Regions from separate parts of the Homo sapiens genome. Here region 2 is linked to region 1. Evidence: fine-mapped expression QTL. A gene starts in region 1. The other region holds a variant in brackets. All regions are shown on one strand. Distances are from middle to middle. Region 1 holds the start of KHDC1L (KH domain containing 1 like). Region 2 overlaps KHDC1 (KH domain containing 1).

What was found. PIP is the estimated chance that this variant, and not a neighbour inherited with it, causes the effect.
Region 2: its variant is the best candidate, but not a certain one, in a credible set for the expression of KHDC1L in cerebellar hemisphere (GTEx, PIP 0.76).

The regions. Positions count from the first base shown.
Region 1 is chr6:73,224,197-73,226,997 of GRCh38, reverse strand. It overlaps KHDC1L (KH domain containing 1 like), which reads left to right and starts at 1,502. Exons shown (of 3, transcript NM_001126063.3): 1 at 1,502-1,701; 2 at 2,650-2,801. The coding sequence starts at 1,590. LOC122539213 (KHDC1-KHDC1L) reads left to right here. Exons shown (of 7, transcript NR_173146.1): 5 at 1,577-1,701; 6 at 2,650-2,801. RefSeq lists enhancers at 2,418-2,712, 1,947-2,801.
Region 2 is chr6:73,248,278-73,251,078 of GRCh38, reverse strand. All of the region lies in intron 1 of KHDC1 (KH domain containing 1), which reads left to right. The region is part of intron 2 of LOC122539213 (KHDC1-KHDC1L); the gene reads left to right. Among named protein-coding and RNA genes, the nearest start is that of KHDC1, 14 kb to the left of the region's middle. The variant C/T (reference allele first, on the strand shown) is at 1,268.

The DNA of each region.
Region 1 (2,801 bases):
GGCATGATCTCGGCTCATTGCAACCTGTGCCTCCTGGGTTCAAGTGATTCTCTTGCCTCAGCCTCCTGAGTAGCTGGCATTACAGGCGCCCGCAACCACGCCCAGGTAATTTGTGTATCTTTAGTAGAGACGAGGTTTCACCATGTTGGCCAGGCTGGCGGTGAACTGCTGACCTCAGGTGGTCCACGTGCCTCGGCCTCCCAAAGGGCTGGGATTACAGGCGTGAGCCACAGCGCCTGGCCTCCTGTTCAGTCTTAAATGCTACTGTGCAGTCATTATATTTTCACTTGTATATTTTGTACTAAATGTATATGAGAGACCAAATGTATGTGGATGCAGAGAATGTTCTCCCGATAACCTTGTGATCTGTGGACTCAGACAGTGGTGTAGATCTGAACCTCACAGATGAAAGTCCTGATGGCTGACTTTGTCTTTGGTCAAAAGAGGAGGATGAAAAGTGAAAAATCACCCAGGAACTTGCAGTGGGAAGCTGACAGGCCAAGCTGAATCTTCCCTACCACACACAAACATCTCCTGCAAAATTTTTTTTTTTTTTGAGACGGGGTCTCGCTCTGTCACTCAGGCTGGAGTGCAGTGGTGCGATCTCGGCTCACTGCAACCTCTGCCTCCCGGCTTCAAGCGATTCTCCTGCTGCAGCCTCCTGAGTAACTGGAATTACAGGTGTGCACCACCACACTCCGGCTAATGTATTTGTATTTTTAGTAGAGACAGGGTTTCAGCATGTTGGTCAGGCTGGTCTTGAACTCCTGCCCTCCTGATCCGCCCACCTCAGCCTCCCAAAGTGCTGGGATTACAGGCATGAGCCACTGCACCCGGCCGAAGAATATTTTAAGCAGTCAAGTTTGCTCAGTGATTGTCATGCAACAAGATATAGAAAGTCTATTCTGTAACTATATTTGAAACCAGAGAGAGATAACATTCTGCAGTGAAGACCACATTAGTCTCTCAACTTCCTAGATAAATTTACCAGAATAATCATCAAATTGCACCATTTTAGAGAACTGGCTCCTACTCCTTAAACACGCCTTGGACTGCCCTAGTCAACTCCTACAATGGGCTCCCTATGACACTATCCTATCAAGTTTATTTTCCTCTATTGTTTGCTCTCCCTTGACGCAACACACCAAATAAACCAAGTCGTGTTGGAATACACTGTGTGGTCACTGGGTGGCTGCCGACACCTGTGCAAATCTAGGGAGCCCATTTGGAGCCTTCCTGCACCTCCATACCCTCAACCCCCTGCTCCAAAATTCTTTGAATTTAGAGTGAAGAAAAATTTCTGATTCCAGGACATCAGAAAGCCAAGCACTTATCAGATGATTAAGTTTGACTTGAAAGAATTAAGCTCAGAGCAGATAATTACTTGGAATGAATTATCTTGGGAAGACCTCCGGGGATTGGACATCCACCCTAAGGTGGATCAAGGGGCGGGTTGTTTGGATTCCAACAACCCTTATTAAGGACAACCCTTTTTAAGGACAGAGCCTAGGCCCTTCCTCGCTTTTCCAAGTCTTTTGCCAACCAGTTTGTTAGACTTTCCCCTATTCTGAATCAGGTGGGAGCACAGCATGGCCGTGGGAACGAGTGCTCTCAGCAAGGAGCCGTGGTGGACCCTGCCCGAAAACTTTCATTCTCCAATGGTGTTCCACATGGAAGAGGACCAGGAGGAGCTCATCTTCGGTGAGTGGCCTTTGCCCACGTCCCCTCCTTCATCTGTTTTTTATTTTTATTTTTTTGAGACAGATTCTCGCTCGTGATCTTGGCTCACTGCAACGTCTGCCTTTTGGGTTCAAGTGATTCTCCTGCTTCAGCCTGCAGAGTACCTGGGATTACAGGCGCCTGCCACCACGCCTAACTAGTTTTTGTACTTTTTTTTTTTTTTTTTTTGAGACTCGAGACGGAGTCTTGCTCTGCCGCCCAGGCTGGAGTGCAGTGGCGCGATCTCGGCTCACTGCAAGCTCTGCCTCCCGGGTTCACGCCATTCTCTCACCTCAGCCTCCAGAACAGCTGGGACTACAGGCGCCCGCCATCACGCCCGGCTAATTTTTTTTGTATTTTTAGTAGAGATGGGGTTTCACCGTGTTAGCCAGGATGGTCTCGATTTCCTCACCTCCTGATCTGCCGGCCTCGGCCTCCCAAACTGCTGGGAATACAAGTGTGAGCCACTGCGCCCGGCCTCGTGTTTTTTTTTTTTTTTTTTTTTTTGATATGGAATCTCTGTCGCCCAGGCTGGAGTGCAGTGGCGCGATCTCGGCTCACTGCAAGCTCCGCCTCCCGGGTTCACGCCATTCTCCTGCCGCAGCCTCCCGAGGAGCTGGGACTACAGGCGCCTGCCACCACGCCCGGCTAATTTTTTGTATTTTTAGTAGAGACGGGGTTTCACCATGTTAGCCAGGCGTGTGTGGAACTCCTGACCTCAACTGATCTACCTGCCTCGGCCTCCCAAATTGCTGGGATTACAGGCATGAGTCACTGCGCTAGGCCGGCCTCCTTCATCCCCTTCTCGATTTTCAATCTTCCCCTCTCCTCCCACCTTCATGAGTCACACATCCCTACCCTCAAGGCCACCTCCTCACTCCCCAAGGACTGGTGGCTGACAGTTTCTCTTCTCACTTCTTGTGCTTACAGGACTTGATGACACGTACCTTCGCTGCATTGAGCTGCACAGCCACACCCTTATTCAGCTGGAGAGGTGTTTCACAGCTACAGGCCAGACACGTGTGACTGTAGTCGGACCACCAATGGCAAAGCAGTGGCTGCTGCTCATGTTCCATTGCGTG
Region 2 (2,801 bases), 24 kb before region 1:
GAGGCGGGCAGATCGCTTGAGGTCAGGAGTTTGACGATAGCAGCCTGGCCAACATAGCAAAACCTGTCTCTACTAAAAATACAAAAATTAGCATACCTGTAATCCCAGCTACTCGGGAGGCTGAGGCAGGAGAATTCCTTGAACCCGGGAGGTGGAGGTTGCAGTGAGCCAAGATTGCACCACTGCACTGCAGCCTGGGCAACAGAGCGAGACTCGATTTCAAAAAAAAATTATTTGATGCTTAATATTCTGTAACTTGGAAAGTGCTTATGAATGAAAATAATCAAGATAAACTTTGTGCTTTTCACTCTTCAGGTTTTATGTGATAAAACATTGCTACCTACAGTTCATTGTCCCTCCTTGGAGAGTGGAACACTGCTGAGCGCAATCAATCAAAATGAGAGTAGTATGTAAAAGGGACCAGAATCATGTAGCATGATTTGAACAGCAAATAACAGGAAACACTGGTCCAGTTGGATGCTAATAAAGCACTGTATTATTGCCAATAGCAGGCATTCCAGGCATATTATGCCAAGGGCTCAAATTCAGTTTCTTGGTTTGCCTCCCTTTCCACCTTGTGTTGGCTTCCTCTTCAGGTTGGTAGCAAAATACTTGTAGCTATTTCCAAAATCATATCCTGCTATAAACACTGTGAGAAGGTAAGAATAGACAAGTTCTTTTTTGTGTCTCTCTTCAGAAATGAGACAACCTCTGCTGGAAGCCTCCTTTAGGTTTTGCTTCATTTCAAAACTGGGACATGTGCCATTTCCTAAAGCAATCACTGGCAGGGGAATTAGATTATCATGATTAGTTTAAACTAATCACCTGGAATTAAATTGATGTTAGGAGTTAGTGTCCATCAGCACTAAACAGGGTTCTATTTTTCTATATTTTGACATCATCTGTGAGTTGAAAAACTGCAACTGTGAGCCAGAGATTGACAGAGTGATAGAGCCACTGAATAAGACATGGATTTGTGACCTGGGAACATGAGAAGCCATGCTAAATGAAACCCATACATTTGAAGCTGTCAATTTCTCATAGATTATCATTTGTTCAAGTATAAGGAATCTTGAGAAACTCATGTAGGATGCAAGAGAAACTATATTTTATTTGAGTGCATATTTGTTAACATATTCCTGCTTTTTAAGTACTCTACCATCAGGCTGGGTGCAGTGTCTCATGCCTGTAATGCCAGTGCTTTGGGAGGCTGAGTCGGGAGGATCACTTGAGCCCAGGAGTTTGAGACTGCAGTGAGCTATGATCA[C/T]GACACTACTCTCTGGACTGGGTAATAGGGCAAGACCCTGTTTCTAAAAACAAAACAAAATAATAAAAACAAAAATAAAAACCCCTCTACCATCAGAAAGTTATTCACACTTTTGGTTTCAGATGTGTCCGTCTTTCTGTGAGTCCACATCCAGCAGAGACAGGCAAAGCTAAGAGCACCAGGGCTCCTCTCCTTCCTGTGTGTGTGCGCTTCCCATGAATATACGAAATAAAGATGATTACTTACTCCATGTGTTACACTTGCAAACCTTGCCTTTTTTATTGCTCTAAAATATGAGGTTACCAAGATTGTGCATAACTAGCATTAGACAACTCACTGCACACTATCTCTGACTCTGTATTTGTGGTCCTATGTGGTACTTTGGATAATATTATTTTCATAATTATGCATGAATAATTTTTCCAGCGGCACCAGCTGGCCCTAGCTGGCAGCCACCCCTACCCAGTACATAAGTACTTTGTTGTTTTTCAGAGATACTTTTTCAATGTTGAATATAATTTTTTTTTTCAAGAGACTGGGTTTCACTCTGTCGCCTCGGCTGGAGTGCAATGGCATGATCATAGCACACCTTGAACTCCTGGGTTCAAGCAATCCTCCTGCCTCAGCTTCCTGTTAGCCACCACACTGGTGAGCTGGATTTTTTTATTTTTTAAGCTTTAACACAAAAGTTAAATGGTTTCTTTATTTCACTCAAGGGTTAATAATTGAGAAAGTGATTATCAACATGTACACAAAGCTAACTAGAAGATTAGCTTTCTCAGTAGAAATCCAAGTGTCCTGTTAACACTGGTGTCACTTATAAATGTTCTGAAACTTTACCTTTTCTTTCTTTCTTTTTTTTTTTTTTGACTCCCAACATAAAGGCCATACTAGAAAACCTCAGGAATGTAATAATTTATTTGTAATTTTTTTTCTTCAAAAAATCCCTTGAAGTTCAGACATTAACACTGATACGCAATACCAAATAGCTCCACAGGACAGATGGAAACAGGAAAAGTCAGATGGTTGGCACTTAAAAGGAACAGTAATTAAGCAATTGAAAGTGGATTGGATTGTTGGTTAATATTTGTTCATTCGAAAGAATCAAGTGGAAGAGGTAGCCTCTTGGAAGAGGGAGATTAAGTTGCACCTGATGCTTCGCCTCACTGACCAAGGGGCTGGGATATCTTGTTAACTCCCTCTTTTCTGTTTAATTGCATTCTGTACTCTAATTTTCTCAGATTGTATATTCTATCTTATTTTTCCCTCTGGGCAAAAAGAAATCTTTCTGTTTACTTCACCCTAAGTCTTTCCTCTGAGAAAAGGCAGTCTTCTCTAACAAGGGAAAGAAAACCAGGAGGGAGAGAGGAAGGAGGGGGAAGAAGGGAAGATGAGAGAGAAGAGAGAGGAGAGAGAGACAGATAGAGGAGAGAGAGAGAGAGAGAGACAGAGAGAGAAGTGGAACATCGGATTAAAGTAGAAGACAGAGGAGAGAGGGGAAGGGAAGAGGGAGCAGGAAGGGGGATGCTCCACG